4 linked regions of the Homo sapiens genome follow. The protein of the gene in region 2 interacts with the protein of the main gene of each other region in a biochemical or structural test. Each region holds a gene or a part of one and is shown on either strand. Other genes may lie near its edges.

Region 1 (7,477 bases), on a different chromosome or scaffold from region 2:
CGGGAGCCCTCTGCGCGGGTGCCCTTAGGCGCGCACCCCTTGCTCACCCGCACGCGCGGCTCGGTGAGGTTGGTCCACACGGCGATCTCCTCCCTCATGCTCATGTCGGGGTAGCGGTTCCTCTGGAACGTGGCCTCTAGCTCTTGCAACTGCTGGCTTGTGAAGTGCGTACGTTGCCGCCGCTGCTTCTTCTTCTTGGCTGGGTCGTCTGCGCCGCCGCAGCCCGTGCCTCCCGCACCACTGTCCTCGGGCCCCTTGGGTTCCCCGCCGCGCTCCTTCTCTGCAGTAGGCAGGACGGGGAGCGGGTCACCTGGGCTTACGCCCCGTTGCACCCCGTCCCGGCTCCACCGAACCGCTCGCCACCAGCGCTGGCGGTCTTCCCTCCCTCCCTCCCTCTAGGGTTCCTGGGAACTGTCCCCACTGGAAAGCGCCCGCCGGGTGCTGGTCGTCAGTAGGCACCTCTAGTCTGGTGTGCCGCGGAGAAGAGCCCAAGAATCGGAGCTGGAGCCGCGGGCCTGCGTTCCTGGCTGGGCAGGGCCTGCACCCTTAGCTCGGCTCAGATTCTGACCCTGCTGCTGATGTTCCCAGCAAATGTATGCTTTTTGTTTGTTTGTTTTGCGAACTCTTAGGGGGTCTAAATCTGAGGGGGTCTCTGCTTTTCTGAACTAGGATCAGATCTCTCCAGCCTAAAGTCCCTCCACTTTCTTCTCCTCAGGGGTGTATGGGAGCCCCACTGGGCAGGCACAACACAGCCGGGTTCTCGGCCTTGCTTCCAGGCCTCCAGTCCCAAAGCCTAGAAAACCCCACCAACTGCAGCCCAGACAGACAGACTCTGTCTAGGTGACCTCGGGCTTTAGTCTGTCTCTCTTTGAAGCTACACAAAACACACGCAGTCATAGAAACATTAATACATAAAGAAAAAGAGTTTAAAAACAAAACACAGAAGCCCAGAAAAGCTCACAGCTCTATGCCTAAAGACACTGAAAGGGCCACAAATTCTCAAAATCAGACAGGAAGAAACACAGAGCAAATGTAAATTAAGAAGCCAGAAAGCTCCGTACAAACACACCCCTAACTAAATACAGAGCTGTAAGTGTATAAACTCCAGGTTGACAGAAGCATTTATTTCTCTGGGATTTAAAAAAATAATGTACCGTTGTAGATAGATTTTTAACTCCTTCCCAATAAGGCCCTTGTAGAGATAATTTTTAAATCCCAGAGAAACACATTATAGTTAGATAATTTAAATTCCCCAAATAACACCACTGTAAATGGATTTTGAGAAAATTCCGGAGAAACGCGCCATTTTGGATTGACTTTTTAAAATCTCCGGAAGAATAATGTTGCATGTAGATATTTTAAATTCCAGACCTACACTTCGTACGTTAATTCTTTCAGAATCGAAAGATACAGTTAAAATTAATTCATCCTCATAGATTTGGTTCAAAAAAATCAATATACGATTATATATCTCTCTAGGTTTTAAAAATAAAACCAACCAAAGACCGCGCTTAAAACTTTTGAAAACAAAAGTAGAGTTCAGCGTTGATTATGTTTTAACCAAGCAAACAACCTCTCAGAAAAATCACTTAGGGATGCAAAAGAGAAACAGATACTAAGAAAGTGGAGAGAAACATTCAGCTGTGTATTAAGAAATGAACGCAGAAGAGGCGCCCACACCGGGGAGCTCGGAGCCCCTCCGGAACCCGGCCGGCTGCGCTGGGCAGCGGATTCGCTGCCCCACTGCCCGCGCCGGCCACCCGCGGGCCCAGTTCGCTGCTGGAAAAAAGCTCCAGCTCGGACAAAAAAAGGCAGCGCGGAGGGAGACGCGCAGGAGCCGGGGCGGGGGCCAGAGCCGGGCTGCTCCGGGCTTCGGCCGCGCACGTGGGCCGGATCCCTTGATCGGCGTTCCGGCTGGCCTTGCTGGGAGTCCGGCCGCGCCTGTTGGCCCGCTCGCCCTCACCGTCCTCTGTGTCTCCCTTCTACTTGATGACCCCTCTCCCCCCGTTTACCCTTCCCGCCCGCCCCTTCTCTTTGGTCTCTTTCATTCTGTCGCCTACTGTCACGGTGTTAACCTCCCTCTCTGTCTCTCTGAGTGCGTTCTCTCGCCCGTCACCCCTCTTCCTTTCTCGGTCTCCTCCTCTCCCTTCGTCCGAGCCGCTCCTTAGCGCCCAGTTGCGCAAATCAAATTCTTTCCCGTTCTATTTACTCCTGATCAAGAGGGGCTGTCAGTCCAACCCTCCAGCTGTAGGCTCGTGCATCTGCCAGTCTCTTGGCGCGTGGGGACCGCGTGGAAGTGCCTTCGCGTGTGCGTAAGTTTCCGCGTTCACCGTCAGGTCGAGAACGGGAAAAAGAAAGCTCCTGACGCTTCTGGGGCGGAGAGGGAGCTTGGTTGCGCGGCGCGGGCGTCAGGCCCTGCTCCCAGCTCCCCGTGCTCCGCGCCCGGGTAGGCTCTGTGCGCGCCGCGCGGGGAACGGCGCTTACCTGGCAGCTCCGTGTCAGACGACTCGCTGGCGGAGTTCTCGAGCGGCTCGCGGGGGTCGGCGGGCCGGGCCAGGTGGAAGGCGGGCCCCATGTCATGGGGTGGCGGCGGCGGCGGCCGGAGCCCCTCCGGCAGCCGCTCCAGGCTCATGCCCCCCTTGAAGGCGTCCATGGAGGTGGGGACCGCGGCGGGCGCTCCAGGGGCCGGGGCTGGGCGCGCCCCGCCGCCCTGGCTGCGACCTGCGGGGACAAGAGCGCAGCGCCTAAGCGGCTGCCCTCCAGGGCTGCCGGCGCCTGCAGCGACGCCGTGCCCGCCCCATGGACCGCCCGGGGCTGCGGCGCCGGGCGGGCAGAGGCGGCGGCAGCTTCTCGCGACTGGGCGCCTGGCTCAGCGCTCCGCGCTGCGCTCCTGCCGCTCGGGCCTCAGCAGCCCGGCCGGCCCCGGCTCCGGCTCCGGCTCCGGCTCGCGATCCGGGGCCGGTTTCTAAGGCTCCGGACGGCGCCGGCAGAGTCTGTCTTAAAGCGACAGCGCGCACAGCCAGGTTCCAGCAGTCCCTGCGCCAGGGGTGCTGGGTGGGGTGGGCCTGGGTGGGAGGGGGCTGGGGAGGGAGCGAGCGAGCGAGGGAGCGCGGGCGGAATCCAGCCCCAAGCCGCCCGCGCCGCCGCGCCCTCACTGCCGCCCTCCCTCCCTCCCTGCCTCGCCCGCGCCCTCCCCCTCCGCAGCCACCTTCCCGCCGCCTCCCCGCCCCCCGCGGCCTCGCCGCGCCTCTCCCTCCTTCCCCGGTGACACACCGAGTTCTCCCTCGGCCTCACAAAAGAAACGCATCTGGCCTGCGAGTCCCGGGCGGCTCGTGCACACCTCAGGCCTCAAATGACTTGTTTCGCCTAGAATCAACTCCCGTCTCGGCCGCCTCGAAGTCCCCAGCCCTGGCGAGAACAGCCCAGGATGAGTGAATGTTTGCCGAACAGGATCGCACCGAGCGGGCGCCTTCGAGCCAGCGCCGGGGCGGGGGCAGAGCCCGGGGCCCGTTCCGGCAGCTCCCAGCGGTGTCCTCGTCGAGGGGCCGCCTGCCCCTCCTTCTCCAGCCTCTTCTCCCGGGAACTCAGCCCGGCTGAGTGACAGCAGCCTGCGCTCTAATGGGCCCCCGGATGCTGCCTCCTAATTAGCTTGGACCTTCTCCCCTACGGCTGCTTCTCAGGCCTCCCTCTCTGCACCGCAGTCAATTTTCCGGGATTGGGATAGAAATGATGGCTTCTAATCAGACGAAACGTTTCTGCTGGCTCTAGGCGTTTGGAGAATGCAGAAGGAAGACCCCAAGGATCCCAGCCAGACCCCACAGCCTCTTGTACCTCTCCCCTTGTTTTACACCTTAGGCCTTGGCCAAATGGGCCAGGCCTGGCCTTGGCAGGCATGGGGTTGGCCTTGGCAGCCTTTGCCCTCCTTCAGGGTAGCTTTGTCCCAGCCTGGGGCCTGCGTCCTGGCTTCCCAGGGCTTCAGGCATAGGCCTGGTAAGCCAGGTGACTGCTGTCTCCCAACCCTGGGCCAGCAGCCCAGGAAGCCCTCAGTCTTCCAGCTTCTCTCCCACACAGTGGTAGCTGAGCTGCAGCTCCAATGGGCCTTCACTGGGCACAGGCAAAGACATTACTCTCCCACTCCTAAGAGTGATTCCCTCCTCGAGTCCTTGCACGTAGGTGAAGTTTGTCGAAGGATTTTGCTCAACAATTGTTAGCTGGCCCCGAGACCTCAGCGTCTTGAGCAAACAGGCCACAGCTGGGGCGGCAAGGCGCCGCCCTGACCTGCTCCTCTGGCCATAGGCGGACCCCAGACTGCCCTCTGCCCCTCACCTGTGATCAGCTCCACCAGACACAGCAACCCAAGGGAGCTGCGCCAGGATTGTCTGCCTGGGAAAGAAGCAGGGAGGTGTCCAGTGTCCTCACCCCAAAACCCAGTGCCTCCTCAACTCCTGGGTGGGTGGCACTGACTGTGCAGGTATCAGCGTCTGGGGCACTCTGCAGGTTCTGCCTTTGAGTCCTCGTCTTACCCCTTCCCATCACAGGGAGACACCCAGGGTCAGCTGAGCTCCTTGTGGGGGCTGCTGGGGCCAGGGTCGGGCATGCAGGGTGGAACCAGGCCTGCCTTCCATTCCCTCCACGTTAGTCCAAAGCACCCCCACCCCTACCCCCATCCCCATCCCCATCCCCATCCCCATCCCCATCCCCATCCCCCGCTCTGGGCCGTGGAGAGACAGCACAGCTCCTTAGGGCCTGGTCCTTTCTCACTGTGGGTCTGTGACCACAGGATGCAGGGTCTGAGGCCAGAGGGAGGACACTTCTCAGGGGTTTGGATTGGGGAGGCTCAGTGACTCCTGCCTTCTTCCAAGCTGAGATCTCCCTCCATGAAATGAGTCTTGGCTACGGGGAGGGGAACATGGGGAAGCACAGTTGCCCAGCATTTGCCCTCAGCCCCACCGTTGCCATGTTTCTTGGCCACCTTTACCACGAGTCTCCTGCAGTAGAAGATCCCTCCTTTCAAGGAGATATTCAGGTGTTGCAGCGTGCTAGGGAGTGTCCCTTCACAGACCATTCTTTTTTTAGCTGTCTTACCAAAAAGAACAGCCTGAATGCAGACAGCATGGGGGCACGCACACACACACACATCCTGTACATCCATGCGGAGATGCTGTACACACACATGTATTCACTGCACTATGGAAGTGCTGAGTTTAGGCATATATGTGCTACTTGGCATGAACGCGGGCTGGCAGGGGATAGGAGGTGTGTTCTAACCCTGCCACATGTCAGGCCAAGGTGGGAAGCACAGTGCGTCTCTGGGTAGAGACTTAGAAATGAATGGTCTGTCTGTGGGCCTCTAGAGGAGGTTAAGACTCACAGCCTTCTCACTTGCCTTCTCACTTCCCAGAGGGACCAAAGTGACTCTTTGGGCCATCCCCCAATGGGGACTATTCTGTGAGCAGCACTCACTGCTTAGTCTGAGGGGCGTGTTTCCTCACTGTTAGTGCATTTAATGCAGTTATTGAGCACCTGCTGTGTGCCCCTCTGGGCCCAAACCTCTGGCAGGGCTCCAGGCAGGCACAATAGTCCCTTTATTTGGTGATCTTGATGCCTGCTGTGTAGAAGGAAAAGCCCTCAGACCATTTCAGGTGAAGCCCCATATCCTCAGGGGACCTGAGACCCAAAGAGGAGCTGGGGCTAGTGGGGCCTGCTGGCAGAGTCTGTTCTGCTGGGCCTGGGCAGCACTGAGTGATCAAGGAGTGAGGAGGCAATTGATTGTGAGGAGGCTGTGGCCTGATCTTGGGCGTTGGCTGGGGAAGGGACCTGGACATGCTCTCAATTCTTCCCCAGCTACACTCACTGGCCATTGTCCCAGTCAAGATAGGGGCTTCTTGCACGCTCACAGACACGTCACACATACAGGACAGAAAACAGCACTCTTTCAGGAGTAAGCAGAGGCTTTGTGTTCCCCCAGCTGTGCTATGTGACCTGTGTTTCCCTCAAGGTTAAGGCTTGATCTGCACTGTGCCTCAGTTCCCATGTCCAACACCGGACTCTGCCTGCTGCTTCAGCATCCAGCTCACTTGCTGATGGGACACGAAGAGAGGAGGGAAGGGGGCTTAGTGGAGCTGGAACCATGTGCCCTGTTCCCCACCCCTCCGTGACCACACAAAGCCAGCAATGATTCTCTGATTTTCAAGAATTTTGGAGTTTAGGGTCTTGGCTGGGCTGAGCAGAAGAGCTTGGGCTGTTGTGGGGTTGAAGTAGTCACCATGAGGACCCTTCCTGAAGCCTGGCTCACTAAAAACACCCTGTGCCCAAGAATGGTTTAGTAATGTAATTTGGGAAGGGTGGTTGGAAGGCTCTCAGTGGGGGGGCATCCTTCTACCCACCCACGGGGGCACCGTGCCCTAATCCTTGCTCCCAGAATCAAGGTATTTTAGGAAAAAGGAAGGAATGTGCCATGGCCTGCCACCAGGGCTATCCATGACTCTCTGGGACATTCCAGCCCTAAGCCTCTTAGTCCGTGGAGAAGTTCAAACTTGAAAACCCTGTTTTGGGAGTGCAGGTTTGGACCACCTACCTCTTTCTGCCTGATCTAACACCCCCTCCCCAATAAAAGCTCCCGTTTCTTTGAATACAGCAATTACTGGGTAAGTGGGGAGGAGGGTGCTCAGGTAGGGGCTGGAAAGACCTCACTGGCTCCTTTAGGCTTCCTGGGACCCCAGTCTGAGGCTTCCTGCCAAATGGGGATCCCCAGCCTGTCCCGGGGAGAGCCAGGATGTATTTGAGCAGGACTGCCGCCAGTGAGGCACAGATGGGAGTATGGAACTCAGGACTCTGTGCCGTGGGCCGCTCAGTCAGCGGCTGGTAGGACCCATGGCTCTACCCGGCCCATCTCTCACCTAAGTCCATGGACGCTGTCTGGTTCCTGAGAATGGCTGAGCTGTGGGGAAGAAGACTAGGAAGGAGGTAGCAGCTGGTCGCACAACTGGGGAGCAGAGGGGCAACTTATGGATGCACCATAGCCTCCTCCTCCCAGCGGCTGCTTTCATGGGAGAAGAGCACCCTGAGCCTGTCTGGAGGCCTCTGCATCCTAGAGTCCAGACAGCCTGGTCTCCAAGCCCCAGCCCACCTCTTTTCCTTTCCCTGGAAGAGATGCGGGAGGCCGAAAGCAGCCCCGGGAAAGGGCACGGGGACAGCAAGTCTCCTGTGCTGCCCCTGCTGCCTGTAGCTTTTGCCCTGACTACCGTAGACCTGAACCCTAGACCTGAATCCTCCCCCAGTGGACAGCAACCTGGGATTTCCTCCCTCTGGCCCTGGTGGCTTTCAGAGGTCACAGGGATGTCAAGAGAATTTGTGTTTTTCAGAATTTAGTTTTTCAGAAAAGTGGACTAAATATTTGTAGATTCGGGGAATTCCTAAATCGGAAAAGCTTGGGACCCGGATTCCAGCCTGGGGTTCCCATTACTGCGATCCCGGC
Region 2 (7,023 bases):
ACTTTCCTTGGACCAATTGGATATTTAGAAAAACCAAAAACACACACAAATACAATCTGTATCTACTGCTTATATACAAAACTTGAAAGCACACCAGGATCTGAAAATCTTTTCTGCAATTATATGGTGTAGTGAGTTTGGCACTTCATTGTAATGAAATTTCCAATGGCACAGTCCTTATCTACAGCAGCACATAACCTGCACACATTGGGCAAACATCCTGTACAGGAAAAATGTCTTTGCTGCCAAGTCTGACGAAAGGAAAAAAGGAGGGTTTTTTTTTTTGTTTTTTTTTTTAACCAAGAAAACTAAAAGGGAGTTGGTGAAAGACATCTTTGGACTGCTTCTCTCAGTTCCTGCTGTCAGACAATCTGAAGTACTTTTAAGTGTAACCTAGGAAAAAACACATACATACGCACACACACATACACACACAATGAAAATATAGCCAAATTAAAATCAATTCAACTTAACATGTTAAGAGTGACAGACATACTTAGGGGCAAAAAGCTAGAGCTTTCTCAAACAGCTCTAAAATCATTCAATGGGGAAAATTCTACTTTACAAAAAACCCTTCAGCATTTGATTTATATCAAATGTATTCATTTATTGAAGAGCTACTAAAAAGATGCAGCCATCGAACTGTCAAAAAGAAATCTTTAAAGCAGTTAAAGGAAGCTTCCTTCTGTGTAAGCTCAGAAGGAAAACTGTAAGCTGCAAAAAGGACAGAGAATGAATGATAAAAGATCCCTCTCTGCAAGGGACAGTCAGTTGACATCAAAGATGTGCTAACCATGGCAAGTTACTGTGTTCCTCGCTTTTAAGTTCTATTTTTCAAAAGGTCTTTTGATATTGGGGTGAACTTACCTGCTCACTAACCCTCAGCCTGACACCCAGCTATGTGTCGTTGTCTTGACACTGTGTGGGAAGCTTTGGTTGGGCAACACATTGTCAAAGTTAAAATCCAATGTATCTCCATCCATGAGGTCATTCCGAATGATGGATTCCATGTCACAGTCTAAGCGCTCAATGAACATGCCATCCAAGTCACTTGGGAGCTTCTCCTGGTGGAGAAGGCCCATTCTGCCATAGCCATTGCAGCTGCTCACGGAGGAGTAGCCCCCCAGGGCACTCATCTGCATGGGGTGGGGCAGAGGCACTTGTACAGGTGTCTTCACTTGGGTCAGGCGGTTCATACCCGAGGTGTGGGGCATGGTGCTTACCGTGTGGGGCAGGGGACGCCCGTTAACTGCAGATGTCTGCTGAGCATGTCCAGGGTGGGTATGGGAGCTGGGATTCATCATTTTGTTATGAGATGCCTGGCTGCCATAGGTTGACATGACCGAATTAGGGCCCATCATGACGTTCTGGCCCAGAACCCGGCTGTTGGGCTGGGCTACCCCAGGATCAACTGGTGTCATAATGTCATTATGGGGAGGAGAGTCAGAAGTCAGCAACTCCTTCAAGAGTCCAGGCGCACAGTTATACTGACTCATACCTCCATAACTCGACTTATTGTCCTGAAGTGTTTGTATAGGCATCTGGGGCAAAGGGCTCATGCTGGATTGGCCATATGTATATTTTTGGTAGTTTGGGCTGGGTGAATTCAAACTGGTGTTTGGTGGCGCAAACGAGTAGCACGGCGTCTGCTGCATCATGGTGCCAGGTGAGGACTGGGTCGAAACAGTTAATGATGTTGGTGATGAGAGAAGGTTGAGATTATCCAAAAGATTTTCCATGTTTTCGGGATTGCTTATCTCAGACAGACTGGGTAAAGTAGAGGCCATCTTTGCGGCAGATGGCGGGTACACCATAGAATGCACATCCCCTTCTCCAAGATCATCCTGTTCGGTCATAATGGGTGAGAGTCTCCCACTAATAGTACTAGCATTTGAGCTAGTTCGAGGGCGAAATGTACTCCAGTTATCAAAGTCATCATTGCTGTGAGAGCCAGGGCTTGCAGGCCATTTGGAAAACTGTGATCCAGGGCTGTCCCCAGCACCCTCCTGGCCAGACTGGAGAGATGCTTTCTTCTTGGCAGCTCGGCTTCGGCTCTTAGCAAATTTACTGTTGTTGTCCATGGATGCAGCTCTTCTCCTAGGAGATTTCCCGCTCTTGCCACCCTCTGGATTGAGCATCCACCAAGAACTTTTTCCAGTTCCTTCATTCTGCACACGAATGAACTTGCTGTGTAGGGACAGATTATGACGAATTGAATTCTGTAAGGCAAAACATCTTATTAGAAGTACAATACTTCTCTGCTTGCAAAACTTCCTATTCTACATGTATTACATGGAAAACAAGTAAAAAATCTTAAGAGTGTGTGCTACAGATTTCCATCTGAACAGTCCTAATGGCTCTGAAGCCACTACAAAAGATCTCAAATAGCACAGGAATAAATAGTATCTTATCTTAAAAACAATATCTGTGGCTGGGTGCGGTGGCTCACGCCTGTAATCCTAGCACTTTGCGAGGCCCAGGCAAGCGGATCATGAGATCAGGAGATCAAGAGCATCCTGGCTAACACAGTGAAACCCCATCTCTACTAAAAATACAAAAAATTAGCCAGGCATGGTGGTGCAAACCTGTAGTCCCAGCTACTCGGGAGGCTGGGGCAGGAGAATGGCGTGAACCTGGGAGGCGGAGCTTGCAGTGAGGCGAGATCGTGCCACTGCACTCCAGCCTGGGAGACAGAGTGAGACTCGATCTCAAAAAAAAAAAAAAAAAAATTCTATATCTTAATTTAATGAAGGGACAAAATTTAATAAAGAGTATTGTAAATACCTTCTTTTATACAGCTACATTTTATGGAAAAATCAAAGGAATTGGTTTTAATAACCGCTTAAATTTTGCTTAGCTACAATAGTACTCTGTATCAAAGTGCTATCAAAAACCCCTTCCATTCTACTATCCTTAAAACTACTGCCAATTCTCTTCAGTTTGAACCTGTGCCATTTACATAAAGAAGTTTTATATTACTGGGCCCACATACTTACAGAAACAAAAAAGACAAAAGAATATAGAATATATAGAATATAGAATATAGGCCAGGCATGGTGGTTCACACCTATAATCCCAGCACTGTAGGAGGCCAAGGCAGGCAGATCACCTGAGGTCAGGAGTTCAAGACCAGCCTAGCCAACATGGTGAAACCCCATCTCTACTAAAAATACAAAAATTAGTCGGGTGTGGTGGCAGGCGCCAGTAATCCCAGCTACTTGGCAGGCTGAGGCAGGAGAAGGAGACTGCGGTGAGCTGAGATCACTCCAGCCTGGGCAACAAGAGTTAAACACTCTGTCGCCAAAAAAAAAAAAAAAAAAAGAATATAGAAATATAGAGCTGATCAAGAATTAAAGGCCCCCAAATTAATAAGACTTGGATTCATTCACACCTTTAAAGCCCATTAAGCAAATACAAGTGAATGTAAGGAAAACAGAGTCATTGCTTTTGTATTTGAGAAAGCTGACCTGCCAAAAGAAATTTTTTTTTAATTCAAGTAGTGCCCCTACCCTCCAGTTCTACCAATGACCAGTAGTATGAGCAGGATGCACCAACTAACTCCATGACACACCTCCACGTAGCCAGGGGCTACACTGTCCAAACAGACAACCTGGGATGGGAAGAAATGACAGAGAACGCAAAGAGCTCTAACTCTCAAGCTACCGCAGCTTCATAACTAATCATGCCATGTTTATCATCCCTAGGCCAACTAGGGAAGAAAAACCAACAATCTTTCTTTTGAGTACTTCCTGGGTGGCTCTGCTACTTACTTACCTAGGTGACCTTGGGAAGCTGCCTAGCCCCTAATGTGTCTTAAGTTTCCTCACCTGTAAAGCAGGGCTAAATTACAGAGCCTTATCAGGGTTGTTACATGTACTAAATGAGATACATAAAAATGCTCAGCGGTGCCTGGCATGTAAGCAGTCACCATGAAGGGAATATTAGACCCCAACTTAGAATAGTGGTATCCTGCGCCCCAAAGTCCTGCTTCTCTATTCCTATTCAGTGTGGTATGTATAGGAGCTTAGAAGTAGTACAGATACAAACCCACAACTGCAAATATATGGTGAAAGGGGCCAGAGGTGGTCTCTCCAAGTTTCAGCAGAAACACCAGAGCCAGGCTGCAGATGAGAAAGCCATGGTTTGATTCACCTCCTCTACAACACAGAGTAAGATGGTGTTCAGGGGAGTCCGTGGGACACGTGGAAAAGGAGACGAGGGAAACGCTGTGAGCTCCCCAGAAGGAAGGGCCTTGTCTTATAGCTTCTGGCCCCCAGCACAGTACAGGGCACACAGCCACTACACCTTGTTCATTCAGCAGCCTCTTTCCTCAGAGGTCTGCTCCCAAGGAGTGGGATTCTGGGTGCCCTAAGACCCTGGAATGTGCACAGTCTCCCAGCTTTCTTGGCCTCCTCTGCCAACTGGATGCAAGGCTCAGCTGACCATGCCCCCTGCATCTCTGCGGCCCCTCTTCTCAACCACAAAAAGGCTCTGGCTGGATTTGTGGTCACCCAGGGGTGCAGCCACAGCGCCCACATCCTCATGCCATTGACATGGGACGCCCGGGCCCGAGTGCCAACCACTGCGCCTGAGCAGAGCCTCTGCACAGCAGGATGAGGCCTGGCTCCAACACAAACTGGGAGAGAAGTCTTCTCTCATTAAAAGGTGGTAGAAGAGAGAAAATGGAGGGGTCTCACTTTCTAAAGGGAGATGCAAAAGTCAGGGTAAGGCCCAGCAGTCAGGGCTGAGAAATCCACATTTCAAAACGCCCTCTGACTCTCTGTACTGCATTCCGCCTAAAGATTTCAACACAGCAGCTACGTGACAAGCCCTCCTGCCAGAGCATACAGTGAAGTGTGAGAGCGGGGAAGACACCACCGGAGCCCCAGATTCCCGGCTGGAACGGAGCAGGTGTGTGGTGATGGCAGTGACTGTCTCCTGTTCCCAAGAATCCCCACCTTCCTCCACACCCAAGATCTACCCTCACCTCGAGACACGCTGTGAGGAGGGCCAGGGGCTTAGAGTAGGTACAAGAATCCCTAAAAGAGGCCAGGGAGTACATTTCCCTCCCATCCTATTGCATTCCCCTAAGATCCCCAAATTCCTATGGGAAGGCGCCACACACACACATGTATGCTCACAGAGCCACAGCCTTGTCTGCTGTACCCACCAACCCCAGCCGAACCGAGTTCTTAATTCCTCCTTAAGATCAGCAGGCCCGCACTTGGGGTAGCACTGGAATGCAGCCCTGCAGTCTGACCCTGACATTTTCTATACACTGGAAGTCCAGGCATTTGCACAATATTCCATCATGACAGTTTTGTTCTTTGAACACAATAGACACACAGATAAGCTCCGATGAAATCTCTGGAGGAGAGGAAGCTTGACTCCTGTCCCTGTCACATTTAGTTAATGATAAAGGGGGAAGAAAGATCTTCCCAGATAGAAGCTTCCTGGTTGTTGCATTGACTTGGGGAGAGGGGGTGAAGCTCTCTAACATTCATGATAAGCCTGTCAGATCACTGGCAAGCCCAGCTGGGGGTCATTTTTAAAAAGACTGCAGGAGACATAATAAGGAAATCTTTAAAACATTCAAGAAGCGTTCACTAACTCAGGTGGGACATATACTAATTTAGACTTTAAAAAAAAAAAAGCCACAGCAGTCTCCTACTTATCAAAACATCATATTACATATTTTTCTAAGAGGACATTTCAGGTCGCTCTTTGAGTAACAGAGCTGTTTCCTAACTTTGCCAACAATTAAAATTTTTTCCGAACAGGAAAAGGTTTGCTGTGCAGGACTTGTTACATAAATTCCTGTTTTTCACACAGCCAGCGGGACATTAAAGAAGCTACGGTTTCTAGGGGGTGGGGTTTGAAAAGGTAAATTTTGTAAAAATGTGTTGCTATTAACGACGTTGTGTCTGCACTCCCCTACTGGCCACAGGAGAGGCTGGATGGAAGAGCAGTTCACCAGAAGGACTTCGCAGCAGAGCCGCGTGAGACTGCTGGGCTCTGAAATATTATGCCCTTGAACTCTCAACAAATATTACCTGAGGACAGAGGCAGGATGTCAGGACAGAGGTTCATGCCCTGTCAATCACTTGCCCAAATCCAGCGTTTCTACATGACGGCACTAGAGAAACACAAGCCAGCCAATCTCCTCTCCACTAGCTTGTTTCTCTGCAGCCCCACTCACAAGCCTCTGCACACACCCCATCTGCCATCTGCATGCCTGGCCACCCCAAGCAGTGCAGCATGTGCTTCCTGGGAAGCCTGACCCAATGAGCTCCACAGATGGGGGAGTCGGGGAACCCCGACATGGTGTAGTCGGGGAACCCCGACATGGTGTACTTGCTTGTTCAACCTGCTCTGCTGGCTGTTCTATGTTCAGATTCTGAGTTCCTTAAAGAGCAAATGGGCTAAAGCTTGTCTTTAATTTCTAATATCATAGCCTCAATAACTGTTTGTTGCTTGACCCCCAAAAAAATTACAAGGAAGATATGGTGTCTTACACAATACACATCTTTTAACCATCCATTTGAGTACCAATTCATGTCAACTAACATTTACTGGAAACTATTTTGTGGAAGGAGTAGCGAAAGACATGAAGGAATGAGACACAGAACATGCCCTCCAGAAGCTTTTGATCTACCTGGGGAGAAAATAAGTACACGTAAAGAGCCACTTAATAGGATGACACAACCCATAGACTGTCCAGGAACACGGACCTTTTCTCTCCAAAGGCTGCCACCCTGCCCTCCATGCCCCAGCTTCTGTCTCAGCCCAACTGGCCCCTCCAGAAGCATTTCTTGATGACCTCATCCCATCCTGCAGCTCTAACATGGGACCTTACTTACTCACCCCTCTTTATGATTCCACTATGTCTGATCCCTGGGGCGGTGGGGGGGCATGCCTGACTTCCCACTACACTGTGAGCTGCTCAAGTGAGCACAGGGACCTTTGTCTGTCTTCTTGTACACTGTATCCTCACAGCACCAACACCATAGGGGCACTCAAGTA
Region 3 (7,023 bases), on a different chromosome or scaffold from region 2:
AGTCTTTATGGAGTAAGTCTGGGCCAAAATGATAATTGACAATGTTATTTACATGGATTTCTAAGTTGGCTAAAAAAGTTCCTTTATGGTTAGTGAATATAGCCCATGTAGTTTCCCCGTCTTCTTTAGATGCCTTCTATTTCTATGCCCAAAGTCTGCAGTTGATTTTCAGTAAGCTGGGGGTCATCTTAGAGATAAAATGTAGATGAATGGCATTTTGCTGACAGCATACATCTTTGCTATTTCTGAGGAAAATGGGCTCTCGCTATTAAATCTTTTGTCAATATTTATAAAAATAGTATTTACATATTCTATCTATATTGTGGAAACTATACATTTATTGATTCAGTCATTTGATATCAATGTTGTTGAGTCCCTATTCCAAGTGAGGCACTATGCTCTAAGCACATGGCATTTTAAAGATGAATAAGACACCAAGAACTTTGCAGATAGTAATGGAAATGAGAATTAATCAATTGAAGATTAATATAGTAAGTAGCAGAAGAGAAATAAAAAAATCTTCTAGAGAGTTCAGAACAGGGATGTTGATTCAAGTTTATGGGGATTAGGAGTGGCTGGTAAGGGAGGCATTCAGGCAAAAGACATAAAAATGCAGTATTCCCCTCGCACTCATTAGGATGGCTACTATATTAGAAAAAGAAGAGAGTAAGTGTTGGAGAGGATATAGAGCAAATAGAAACCTTGTGCCTTGTTCATGAGAATGTAAAATGGTGCAGCCACTGTGGAAAACACTGGTGATTCCTCAAAAAATCAAAATAGAATTATCATATGATCCAGTAATTCTACTTCTGGGTATATATCTAAAAGAATTAAAAATCTGGGTCTTGAAGAAATATTTGTATACTCATAGTTATAGCAACATTATTCATAATAGCCAAAAAGTAGAAGCAATCCAGATGTCTATAGATGGATGAATGGGTAAACAAAGTCTGTGTAGTATATACAGACAATGGCATATTAGTCACATCATGGACCTTCAGGACATTATCCTAAGTGAAATATGCTAGACACAAAAAGCAAAAGTAGGGTTTCACTTAATGAGGTATCTAGAATTGCCACATTCACAGAGAACAAAAGTAGATTGGTGGCTGCTAGGGGATAGGGGAAGGAGAAAATGGGGAATTATTGTTGAATGGGTATGGAGTTTCAGTTTTGTGAAATGAAAATGTTCTGAAGACTGGTTGCACGATGATGTGAGTATATCTAACATGATTGAATTGATGAACACTTAAGCGTGGTTACGATGGTAAATTTTGTGTTATATATATCTTACCACAATTTAAAAAATATAGCATTTTATTATGTAGGCGTGGGTGGGAAGATACTTGACACATTGGAACTTCTGGCCATGCGTATACTGTTCACTCACTTATTCCTTCATTCATTCAACAAACATGTATTGAATGCTTGCTATGTGCTGGGCACTGAGCTAGATATAACAATTAATAAGGCTTATAAGACATTGAATCTATCAATTTCATGCTTGCTAAATATCTACTCCCACCTCCAAAGGCACTAAGCTTCTACAGTTAGATATTCATAGCTGCTTCCTACTGACTTGAATCATGCATAGGATATTAGTAAACAAGCAATAAAAAGATTTGAGGTTGATGGGGGTGGGTTCAACAGCATGGTGGTGAAATGGAAAGAGATGGGTAACAGAATATGAACTAGAATTGAAAACTGTGAGCCAGTGCTCTCTAATGAACATTAAAAAATAAAGAATTCCTATTTGAGGCTGCCAACCTCAGAACTAAGTTATTTAGAATGGACGAAATTGGCAAAGTCAGACGTACTCAACCCAAGGAGCCAATATTTTGTGAATATTATGGCAAATGTAGTTTGAGAACCACTACCACAAAATTGTGAACCATAATAATGACTGAGAAGGCAGGGAGAGGTTATACAATTTGGGCTAAAAGGAAAGACAGGGCTTGTGAAGGGGAGCGCCAGTGAAAGTCAGTGTGGTTCGGGTATTTGGGTGGGGACTGGAAGCAGGAAGCTTGAGCTTCCTTTGCCAAGAGACCCTGCTGGAAGGGCTATCATCAATTGACTTTAGCTCATCTTAGGATTTTCATTTTTTAAAAAATGTTCACAGGAACCTTCACTCCATCTATACTTTCAATGTCTGCCTACCTTTCTTTCTTATACAACTTTGAACACTCTCTCCATTCATTTAAATATATTATGGAGTGCCAACTACATGCCAGGTACTGTGCTGGGCTCTTATTCCACCTTTATTTGATTGCACATGCCTGCCAAGTCCTGGGCCAATATAACATCTACTCCTATGTCTGGTCTGGCGAGAGATGCAAACTCATCTTCCTCTACTTTCCTTACCTCCTTCCTTCCAGTCTTCTTCAAGTTGTCTTCATTGAGGCAATTTCTTTTACCTGTGTTTTTAATCCCAACTCCTCTAGTTTCCTTCTTGGCTTTATTCTTTTATCTTCCTCTTTGTGCTTTCAAACATTCCCTTTCTCCTGGCCCATGCCCTTCAGTCTACACGAGGCCTTCTCAAGTCTCTTCATTCTAAAAAATTCATTTTCTTGGGTCTTATATTCTTCAGCTGCCACCCTATCTGTATCTTTTCCTATTCTCCTCCAAGTTCTCAAAGGAATGCCTTCCCTCATTTTCATCTCCTTACATTCCATCTGCTGAATTTTGGCTTGTGCCTGTACCTGTCTAAGGAAACTCCTTGCTAAGAGTCTGCTTTGTCAGGTCTGAATTCACTTAACCAGTCTTTGCTTTGTTGGACTTCTCTGCCCCATTTGCCATTCTTGATCATCCTCTCCATAAACCTTTCTACTTAAAGCATTTTACTTCCTTATTTTCTTGGTTTTCCTAGAATCTCCTTACTGTTCATTTTCAGCTTCCTTTCTGTGTTCCTCTTCTCTTCCTACATTTTTTTTTAGCTTTCTACTTTCTTAAAGCATTTTACTTCCTTATTTTCTTGGTTTTCCTAGAATTTTCTTACTGTTCATTTTCAGTTTCCTTTCTGTGTTCCTCTGATTGTCTCTCTTTCTACATTTTTTTTTTCTGTGTTCCTCTGATTTTCACGCAGTCTGGAGTTGTCATGATCAATCATAGCCTACTGCAGCCTCGACATCCTAGGCTCAAGTGATTCTCCCACCTCAGCCTTACAAGTAGCTAGGACTACAGTCACACATCACCATTCTCAGCTAATTTTTTTAAGAAGCATTTTTATAGAGATGGAGTCTTGCTATATTGTGCAGGCTGGGCTCAAACTACAGGGCTTAAACAATTCTCCTGCTTTGGCCTCCCAAAGTGCTGGGATTCCAGGCATGAACCACCATGCTCAGTCTCTACATGTTCCTAAAGAGGAGTTTTGAATATTGAAGAACAGTATTTTCAAATTACATTATTCAAGTTATAAAAACTGATATCCAGGGTTATGTGGCAATGACGTAAAAATTTGAATTGTTATTTTTTTGACACATGTTCTGTGTTGTCCATCAGTTCATCTGAGTTCCAAATGTCCCAGCTGTTTTATGCTTTGTCTCTGTTTCCCAGAGACCCTGAGTGTGGTCTAGAGTTGGGATGAGCATTGGTCTCTAATGGTTCTGAAATAATTGTATATTCCTGCAAAAACATTAAGTCTATTAGAAACCAGCTAATTTCATTTTGTCATTTTTATAGGTAACATATTCTGGTGCAGGTAGTATGTTTTTAAAACAAGTTTGCAATAAACAATTTCCCCTCAAGGTTAATATAATAGGCAACACCTTTTGCTGCAACAGACGGCAAGAGGTAATGAAAGATTAGCTTACATTATGATTCATTATTTCAAAATGTCAGGATAAAGTGGATCTGCTGCATCTCCCAGAGAGTGCATGTTTTGCTTTTCTAATGTTAATGGATTTACTGTTTTTTTCCCCCCAGGCCAAATTCAGATAATCGACGCCAGGGTGGCAGAGAAAGATTGGCCAGTACCAATGACAAGGGAAGTATGGCTATGGAATCTGCCAAGGAGACTCGCTACTGTGCAGTGTGCAATGACTATGCTTCAGGCTACCATTATGGAGTCTGGTCCTGTGAGGGCTGCAAGGCCTTCTTCAAGAGAAGTATTCAAGGTAATAGTGTGTTGAAAACGACTTCTATTTTTGATCCTATGAGCAGATCCTAAGAGCCAAAGCGACTGAGGAAGGAAGACATAGAATCAGCCATTTGTACAAAACATGAATCCCTAGTAGGTCCACTAGTATCTTTGGTAGAAACATGGAGAAGAGACAGGATCTCAGGAGAAGGAGTTGACACATGGCAGGGCAGCTGAGGCTGAGTAATTCCGCTTCCTTCCTTTGGCAAGACTCAATCAGTCTTGAGCAACTCTACAGAAGAATTCCACTAGCTGGATCTCTGAGGAAAAAAGAAATGTTGTCTGTGCCCTGACTGGGGAATGCCAGATGGACATTCATGTTTGGTAGGCAACTTTGCCTATATGATCTGGTATATGCTGTTAATTGTCCATGCATAATTATCTCTCTACTCAGGCCTTGTCCAGGCAAATATTCTGTTTTGTTCTAGTTTAGCTTGTTCTCCCCTTTCTCTCTTCCATCTCTTTCTTGTCTCAATGGATGACAGGATATTTTGCTATGAGCTGACTCAGTGGTTGGTGTCTTGTAATGGGGAGATATCATCTTTATCAAACAGTTATTAAGTATCTACCTGTAGCATTTCATTTTCCCGCCTGCCTCCATTGTTTTCTTGTCTATAGTTTGCCAATTATAGCTAATATACGGAGAGCTATACTTTATTTCTACTCCAGAAATGTCTCTATTATTGCATTATAATAGGATACCCTGGGGAAACACTAATCATTTTTACTACCTAAAATACCTATGCTGAATATCCTTTATCTGATAGGAACAGAGATCTGACAGCAGCTTAGGCTAACCAAATTCATTTTTTATCTTAAGTGTGGGGCATTTTTCTCTCTTCTTATTCTTTACCTTTTCAGCTTAAGTGAAGGTTAGTATAAACACTAAGAATATTTCTGATGGAGTTTTCATGTGATTCCTTCTACAAAAACCCAGATTTAAGTAACTTGTTGAAAACCAGAGTCCGCTAAGTTAATAAACACTGATTGAAGAAGTGATTCTCATGGACTTTCTGTGATAGCTCTTTCCTGCCCTGATATGAGATGAAAGCTGGGGGATGGTATATAGTATTTATTTTTCCTTCCGTTGCCAGTGGGACTTTTTTTTTTTTTTTAAAAGCTGTTCATATCTTAATCGAGTAGCATGTGAGGTCAACATGGTCTATTTTAAAAGCATTTTCTTCGACACATTGCTTTTAACATCTTTTAGAACTCTGCTGTGAGACACATGGACTTTTTTGTTGGTATTTTTATACAATTAATGATATTCTCAATAGTAATCTTTGTGTGTGTATATATATAGAAATAAATTCTAAATGTAAGTTAATATATTTATTATTTTTCTAAACATATATAAATATATATATGCACACAGGCTATTTAATTTTATTAGATGATGCTATTTTAATTCAGAAAAAAATGACATTTATATTTTGATTTAGGTTAGTATAAGCCCTTAGAGGTGTTTTGACAACTCTCTTAATTTGTGGTTTTACTGTTTATTTGATTTTATATAATCTAAAATACCATTGTTTTTACCAAGCATTTAATTTGGCAGTGAAAGAGCGTCTGACAGAGGTATGGTTAGTAGATAGGTCTAACTGCACAACTGGATGGATTGAGCTGAGACTGTTTCCTCATCAGTAAAAATGATTTGAAGCAGTGGTTGGCAAAGTTTTTCTGTAAAGGGCCAGATAATAATATTTTAGGCTTTACAAGGGCCATGCAGTCTCTGTTGCAGCTACCGAACTGGATTATAGCCTGTAAGGTGACCTGTAAACACATGGAAGTGATTATGTGCTAATAAAACTTTATTTATCAGAATAGGTAACAGATCAGCCCTGGCCCGTGGCCGATCCCTGATTTAATGTTTATTTATCTGATCTAAATACCTTTATTTATGGAAGGGAATAGGGGATTTTTAAATCTAAAGTTTTGATTATTCACATTTTACTGAGAACTTACTCTATACCTGATTAGATGTTCCGAGAGAAATAAAAAAAAAGTGTAAGACATAATCCATAATACCACAAAATTTAAAATGTATTTAGGAAATTTATTTGAGGAAGTAAATGTACTTGTTCTCATGATACAATCAGAAAGTAAGTCAGTATTGATAAAGTGTTACCTGTATGAGAAAGATAAGGAAAACAATAGAGAGATGTAAGAAATGAAAATACCAGTTATAAATTAAAATTATTAAGATTGAAAGTGGAAATGATCTTCCTCCGAGAAACAATGGCAATATTCTCACAAATTTTTTACATCATTTTTGTTCAGCATTTAAGATAAAATTATATAAATTCCCATAACATTTAGTATTGTCTCTAAGCATTAAGAACAGAAAAAACAGAAGGAAAATATATTTCTAAAAATCAACGAATACAGTGTGAGATGTTTCATTGGTATGGCATTATCTCAAGTTCAAACATTTTGAAAAATGTCTGCTTACTCTTTGATAGTTAAAAACAAGTATCTCAGCTGGCGTGGTGGCTCAGGCCTGTAACCCCAGCAGTTTGGGAGGCTGAGGCGAGTGGATCACAAGGTCAGGAGATCGAGACCATCCTGGCCAACATGGTGAAACCCCATCTCTACTAAAAATATGAAAATTAGCTGAGCGTGGTGGTGCACACCTGTAGTCCCAGCTACTTGGGAGGCTGAGGCAGGATAATTGCTTGAACCTGGGAGGCAGAGGTTGCAGTGAGCTGAGATCATGCCACTGCCGTCCAGCCTGGTGACAGAGTGAGACTCCATCTCAAAAAACAAACAAAACAACACCACCACCACTAACAAAAACCTCTTATCGCCGTCTTGTATACGCAGACCAGCTAGTAGAATTTTACTGAAACAGTAGCCTATAAAAATGCAATTCCACTTGGTTTCAGAAA
Region 4 (7,023 bases), on a different chromosome or scaffold from region 2:
AGTGCAGGCTTCCGAACCCAGCTGGCAGACCCCATCAGCTGGGGTGATGGCCAGGGCTCCTAGGGTCCCTGAAAGATGAGCACCCAGGATGGCGACTCATGCAGAAAGAGCTGCCTCCCTCCAGGGCGGACTCCCCCATGTGCCAGAAAAGTAGGTGCTGTCCCTGTCCCTGCACAGCCAGAAATAGGGCTGGGCTCTCCTTGCGGCAGAAGGGATTGAGGTCAAACAGGAGGAACTCGTGGAGGCCAAGGGGCAGCACCCCTGGTCCACCACCAGCCAGCCTTCACTGCACAGCGTCAGGGAAGGGAACCCCAAGGCTGGCACTCAGAGTGTGACACACCTCCGAGGGGAGGAGGAAACTCAGAGTGTGACACACCTCCGAGGGGAGGAGGAAATGAGGACCAGGCCAGTTTCCTGGTGGAACCCGGCAGTGCCAGAGCCTCTGAGCACCAGGCGCTGAGGTTGGTGCAGCAAGGCCCTCCTTGTACCAGGACTGCAGCAGGCTCCTGAGGTGAGGGCGAGTGTGTGGGAAATCTGGCGAGCGTGCCACGTGCATGCGTGAGTGTGGATATGTGGGGAGCATGCGTGCGCGTGAATATGCGGGGAGCAGCCGCACCTTCTTCTCGTACACGTGCTGCCACACGATACCGGCAAAGAAGCGATGCTGCATGATCTCCTTGGCGTCCTCGGAGCCCCCGCCAAGCCTGCAGGCAGGAAACAAGGCCACAGTGTCGGTACCGCCACCTGCCCAGGCCCTGGGTTCAGGCCCCTTCCTCCTGTGATGTAGGGCCCGCCAGACAGGACGTTCCGGGGCCAGGGAGGGGAGCCGGTGGTGCAGCGTCCCTGAGCAGCTGTGGGTAGCAAAGCACCACAGAGCTCACGGCAGGGCAGGGGCTTCCTGAGTGGGTGGGTGCAGGCTGCAGGGTTGGGGACAGAGGCCCAACTGACCCCGGCCTGCCCGCCACTCTGCTTGGGCCTGAGGCTTTGGAGATCAGCCCTGGCCAAGGACATCAAGCTTTGGCTATCAGTGTAGTCTGGGAGGTGCCAGGACCGCCTGGCGCAGGGGCAGGTGCAGCCTGGGGATGAGGGGATGGAGGTGTAGCCTGTAGCTGGGATGGGCGGCCCTCACCTCTGCTTGGGGTCCTTCTTGAGCAGCCCTGAAAGCAAGGACTTGGCCTCGGGACCAAGCGTGCGCGGGAAGCGGATCTCCTCCATGAGGATGAGCTCAAAAAGCTTCTCATGGTCCTGGTTGTAGAAGGGCAGGCGACCGCACATCATCTCGTACATGACCACGCCCAGCCCCCACCAGTCCACTGCACGGCCGTAGTCATTGTCCTCCAGCACCTGCACGGGTGGCAGATGGGCAGGACTCGGCATCAAGGGGTGTCCGGGACACTGCCGGGGGAGGTGTGACGTGCTTGGGGCACAGAGAGGACACAGCATTGCGTGTGCTCAGGACGTGGGGACGCAGCAACGCGTATGCACGCAGGTGGGGCGCACACCTCGGGGGCCAGGTACTCAGGTGTGCCGCAAAAGGTCTTCATGGTGGCACCGTCCTTGATCCCCTCCTTGCACAGCCCGAAGTCTGTGATCTTAATGTGCCCGTCCTTGTCCAGCATGAGGTTCTCCAGCTAGGGGAAAGGTGGCCTCAGGTCAGTGCCGCCAGGCCCCCAGGGCCCTGCCCCCCTGCCTGCCCGCCAGCGCACCTTGAGGTCCCGGTACACCACGTTCTTCTCCGAGTGCAGGTAGTCCAGGGCTGACACAATCTCAGCGCCATAGAAGCGGGCCCGGTCCTCGGAGAACACACGCTCCCGGGACAGGTGGAAGAACAGCTGCGGGAGGCGCAACCTGAGGCACAGCCGTGGCTCGGGCCTCTGCCCCCATGGCCTGCAGGGCTGGGGTTTCTCAGACCGGGTCTCGGCATTGCACAGGGAAGGGACCAGCCACCAGAGGGCACGGGGGCCTGGAAAGTCTCAGAAGCCCTAACTCAGCAGGAACAAGTCACCCCACAGCAGGCAGCTGCCTGGGCAGGCATCACACCACCCACCCAGCAGGGAGCACCGTCTGGTGCCATGGAGAGTAGCCGAGGCTCCGGGAAGGACCGGCCCCACCATGGGCGGCCCACAGGCCGCGAAGTCCATCCCCCGCAGCCCCAGCCCCTACCTCGCCCCCGTTGGCGTACTCCATGACAAAGCAGAGGCGGTCGTGGGTCTGGAAAGAGTACTTCAGGGCCTGCAAGGAAGGGGAGCTGGAACTGCGGCCCCACAGGCAGGACGGCAGCCCCGCACCACGCTGCCCGACACCACGCTGCTTGATACCACGTCGCCTGATACCACACCGCCCGTAGCCCCACACCACACTGCCCGACACCACGCTGCCTGATACCACACCGCCCGATACCACACTGCCCCACACCACACACCCCATCACACTGCCCCACACCATACACCCCCACATCACACTGCCCCCATGCCACGCTGCCCCACACCACACTGCCCCACACCACACTGCCTCATGCCACGCCACCATCAGGCTGGGCCCCGGCAGCCCCTGAGGTGCCAAGGAGTGTTTGAAAGGTGAGCAAGGTGGCCTGGGCTCAGGTCCTCCAGGGTGAGTTGGGACCTCAGCAGGGGACAGTGCTCCCAGCACCAGGGCCTTCGCAAAGGGAGGACACACCCTCCCAGGCGAGACCCACCCTCCCGCCTTCCACCACAGGCGACTGTGCTTTTAAAGCAAAGGCCCCATCTGCAGGAGAATCGTCCCCAAACACAGTGACCTGGAACTAACCAAGTGGCTGGACCCTGGCCCCCTTCACAGTAAATACCTCCTGGGCCAAGTCCCCAGAACAGGTTCTGCAGGACAGAGCCCGGGCCTCAACAAAAGCCTGGCAGGCAGGGCTGCAGGGCATGGGGAGCTGGGGCCTCCTGGAGCCTCGGCAGAGTGCAAGGAAGACCAGGGCCACCTGCCCCACCCACCTGCCCGCACACGGGAGCAGCGAGCACAGCCCCTAGCCCACACTGGGCACCTCCACAGCCTGACCCTCCAGGGCAGGCCTGTCTCACCAGCGGCGGAGTCCACGGTGTGTAAAGCCCTCACGTGCCCAAGAAGACAGGACATCGTCCCCTAGAGACAGCCCCAGGAGTCGCTACCTGGCCCCAGCCCTTCAGCCCCATCTGGGCTCCCACTCACTGTGAGGAAGGGGTGCCTGGAGTTCTGCAGGACGCGGTTCTCGGTGAGTGTGTGGGCCACCTCGTCCTGTAAAGCAGGGCTGGGTGAGCTGCCACCCCGCACCCTCATCTCCACCCTGCCCCACCGCCCCGGCCCCACCTTGGCCACGATGACTTCCTTCTTGAGGATCTTCATGGCGTAGTAGCGGCCTGTGGCCTTCTCCTTCACCAGGATCACCTTGCCGAAAGTGCCCTTGCCCAGCAGCTTCAGGTACTCAAACTCGTTCATGGTCTATGGGCAGGCACCAGGGTCAGCAAGCGGCGCTGCCAACAGTGCCCAGCTGGTCGGCATGCGTGGGGTGGCATGAGGGGCCCCAGAGTCGGAGGCAGAGCCAGGAGAGGCGTCCACTTCACACCTGGTGGCCTACTGGGCTCAGCGGGGAGTCCAGGCTTACAGGGAACACATGGCTGCGGCCCCAGCTCAGAGCATGGGGTTCAGGGAAGGGTGGGGTAACATTGCCCAAGCCTGGCAGGGCTCAGCAACCCCAGTTTTCCTCTGACATGGGGAAGAGGACCCACCTGGGAAGCAGCTGCGCCCTACATGGAAAACCGGCCTAGGTGGAGATGCCGTGGAGTGCTGAGTGTCTCCTGGGCCGAGCTGGGACCCCATGACCCACCCAGCCCTCCACAGTCCAAGGCAGCCCCAGGCACAGGCAGAAGTGGGGACAGGCCTCACCACGCGGTGCTTGGGCTTGGCCAGGGACACCTCCATCTCTTCAGCCCCTGAGTTGTCACTGGGTGAGCCCGACCGGAAGTCCATCTCCTCCTCCTCCTGCTTCTTGAGGCCGTCAGCCACAGTCTGGATGGCGGTTGTCCACTCCTCCCTGCAGGAGGTCAGGTGAGGCTGCAGGCCTGTACCAGATCAGGAGCTCCACCCCACGTCTTTCACCCACCCGCCAGCCTCACAAGCGTGGTTCCACAGCTGTCGGGGTTCCCAGAGACAGCCCTGAGGAGGCCACCACTTGACCTGGTCTGGCCACATACACTCAGGGTCACGAAGCCCTCTTGGACGTGGGGGACACCCAGGCTTAGCCCCCCAGCAGGACTCTGTCCCCACAACCGGACTCCAACCCCCAGCAGGACTCCGCCCCCCAGCAGGACTCCGCCCCCCCCAAGCAGGACTCCGCCTCCCAAGCAGGACTCCGCCCCCCAAGGAGGACTGGCCCTCTCCACCGGGTTTTTCTTTTTTTGAGACGGAGTCTTGCTCTATCGCCCTGGCTGGAGTGCAGTGGTAAAATCTCGGCTCCTGCAGCCTCTGCCTCTCGGGTTCAAGCGATTCTTGTGCCTCAGCCTCCCAAGTAGCCGGGATTACAGGTGTGCACCACCACACCCAGCTAAGTTTTATATTTTTAGTAGAGACGGGGGTTTCACCATGTTGGCAGGCTAGTCTCAAACTCCTGGTCTCAAGTGATCTGCGCACCTCGGCCTCCCAAAGTGCCGAGATTATAGACGTGAGCCACTGCACCCGGTCCCTAGCCAGTTTTTATCTCCAGCCTCAGTTTCCCCACCCAAACCCCACAGGCAGGACTGGGCCAGTTTCCAAACTGGGCTCTGAGGAGGGCCTGGGAGCACTGGGGAGTGAGGATGGCTACAGGCAGAGGTGCCAGCACCCCGCCATCCCCGTGTCCCTCCTAAGCGCTGGGGCTGCCCAAGTGCCTGGCCTGGCCGCCACAGCCCACGTACCGCTCCTCAGGAGTCTCCACATGGAAGGTGCGTTCGATGACAGTGGTCCACTGCAGGCAGCGGATGATGAAGGTGTTGGGCCGGGGCCGCTCCGTCTTCATCAGCTGGCACTCTGCGGGCAGGCAGAGCCTCTGTCTGCGTGCATCCCCCTGCCCCTCCCAGGGCCCTCACCACAGCCCCCGCTGCACCAGCCAGCTCCCCTTGCATACCACCCACCAGGTCCTGGGAAGCCCCATCTCTTCCTCTCTCCAAGCCTCAGTTTCTCGCCTCACAGAGTGGGGCTAGGACCCCTGTTCCAGCTCAGACACTCTACTCCAGGCTGAGGCAGCCACACAGGGCATCTGGCCCGGCGTCAGGTCAAACCCCCACCATCGTCCACTCCTACAGTCCTTCCTTCAGTCTCTGAGCCCCGCCGTGCGCCAGGCCTCAGAGGATGAGGGGTATGGAGATCCCACAGAGGGGCTGGCATGAGGGGGGCACCCCAGAAACCTGCTTGTCCCACCTAGTGTAGAAATGTCCTGCTTTTTTCCCAACCTCACCCTGAGTACCTGGGAAATACAGCCACCTGGAGCACACCCACACCTGGGGCACACCCACACCTGGGGCACAGGCACACCTGGGGCACAGCCACACCTGGGGCACAGGCACACCTGGGGCACAGCCACACCTGGGGCACACATACATCTGGGGCACACACACACTGGAGGCAAAGCCACACCTGGGGCACACGCACACCTGAGGCACACACCTGGGGCACACGCACACCTGGGACACAGCCACACTGGAATACACAGACATCTAGAACACATCTAGACACCTAGCCACATCTGGGGCACACGAACACCTGGGGCACACGCACACCTGGGGCACAGCCACACCTGGGGCACAAGCACACCTGGGGAACACATACCTGGGGCACAGCCACACCTACAGCACGTACACCCTGAGGGCTGTGGGAACGTGCGGGGCCCTGAGAGGTGTGAGTGAGTGGAGTGTGTAGCCGCTGGGGCTCCGTGGCAGGCTCTGGCCCAGCCTGTGCAAAGCAGGAGGAGGCTGAGGGGCCAGTGGGGGGCCTCTGACATTCCAGCATCGAGGCCCTGGCAACCACAAGGGGGCCTGGCCAGGCAGCAAGGAAGCTGTCTTCCAGGCCTGGGGGCCAGGAGGGGGCTCGGGACCAGCCTGGTGGGGAGGGTGGCCTGTGTCAACACAGGCCAGAGAAGTGGAAACCGGTGTGAAGCCCCGGCACACCCACCTCCCACTCGCTCCTGGATGGTCCGATCTGCCCCAGTATGCAATCCCCAGGGCCAGAGTCTCGAGCCCACTGCCCCGGAACCGTTCCCCGGAGAAAAGCCCCGGACAGAGGCCCAGCACAGCCCCTGGCCCCTGCCCAGCTCTGCTCCTTGGCCAGGCGCTCCAGGCCACTCACCTATGGCCTAATCTGAAGGCCCCAGCCTTGCCAGCTGCTCAGGCAACACCTCCAGCTGGTACCCACCCGTGTGCCTCTCCAGAGAGCTCCCCACCTCGTTCCTTCCCAATGCCTCGGCCTGGCGAGCACACCCACAGCACCCACCCCCAGCAAGGCCCTGTCCCAGGTGCCACCAGGCACGCTGCTGGCACCCAGCCTCTCCCTGATCCCTGAAGCCCCCAGCCCCAACCGAGGAGACACTGGGGAGGGTGTGGGACAAGTCACAGTGAGTCTCCTGCATGGTTACGAGGCTGTCAGGAGACAGGGGTGTCTGCCTTCCTGGTCTCCCCTCACCCCTGGGGTGCCCTACTCTATCAGGCTGCCCTGCTACTGCTGGCTTGAGGCTGGAAGAGCCAGGGAAGGAGACCTCGGCTTACAGGAACCAGGTCCTGGTAAACCCCACCCCAACCCCAGCCCCTCAGCCTGGGGCTTTGCAGGGCAAGGCCTCTGCCCCTCCCAACTAGAAGCTTCAGGGCACGGTTTGCTGGCCACAGACCACCTAGCAGCCAGGGTGCCAGACTGACCCCACCTCCCCTTATACGTGCAGGCACCAAGGGTGGGAGTCCTTCCCTGCCCAGCCTGGGGACGGATTCCCTGCATTTAACCTCCTCCCAGACCCTGGACCAGAACCTGGGGGTCCAGCAAGTT

What was found.
Region 1: the proteins of FOXO1 (region 2) and PITX1 form a complex in vitro, tested with the Homo sapiens proteins (one study listed by BioGRID).
Region 3: the proteins of FOXO1 (region 2) and ESR1 form a complex in vitro, tested with the Homo sapiens proteins (2 studies listed by BioGRID).
Region 4: of the proteins of FOXO1 (region 2) and AKT1, one has a biochemical effect on the other in vitro, tested with the Homo sapiens proteins (4 studies listed by BioGRID).

Annotation. Positions count from the first base shown.
Region 1 is NC_000005.10:135,031,229-135,038,705, forward strand, and holds the start of PITX1 (pituitary homeobox 1), read right to left. Parts: upstream 3,001-7,477; 5' UTR 2,722-3,000; coding exon of another isoform or gene 2,654-2,721; coding exon 2,485-2,653; intron 2,313-2,484; exon of another isoform or gene 2,046-2,312; intron 281-2,045; coding exon 48-280; intron 1-47. UniProt on the Homo sapiens protein: Sequence-specific transcription factor that binds gene promoters and activates their transcription. May play a role in the development of anterior structures, and in particular, the brain and facies and in specifying the identity or structure of hindlimb.
Region 2 is NC_000013.11:40,558,642-40,565,664, forward strand, and holds part of FOXO1 (forkhead box protein O1), read right to left. Parts: exon of another isoform or gene 4,048-7,023; intron 2,220-4,047; coding exon 882-2,219; 3' UTR 868-881; intron 394-867; 3' UTR 1-393. UniProt on the Homo sapiens protein: Transcription factor that is the main target of insulin signaling and regulates metabolic homeostasis in response to oxidative stress.
Region 3 is NC_000006.12:151,838,676-151,845,698, forward strand, and holds part of ESR1 (estrogen receptor), read left to right. Parts: intron 1-3,921; coding exon 3,922-4,112; coding exon of another isoform or gene 4,113-4,118; intron 4,119-7,023.
Region 4 is NC_000014.9:104,771,749-104,778,771, forward strand, and holds part of AKT1 (RAC-alpha serine/threonine-protein kinase), read right to left. Parts: intron 5,023-7,023; coding exon 4,911-5,022; intron 4,052-4,910; coding exon 3,904-4,051; intron 3,460-3,903; coding exon 3,328-3,459; intron 3,256-3,327; coding exon 3,190-3,255; intron 2,233-3,189; coding exon 2,164-2,232; intron 1,833-2,163; coding exon 1,707-1,832; intron 1,632-1,706; coding exon 1,503-1,631; intron 1,345-1,502; coding exon 1,130-1,344; intron 705-1,129; coding exon 617-704; intron 1-616. UniProt on the Homo sapiens protein: AKT1 is one of 3 closely related serine/threonine-protein kinases (AKT1, AKT2 and AKT3) called the AKT kinase, and which regulate many processes including metabolism, proliferation, cell survival, growth and angiogenesis.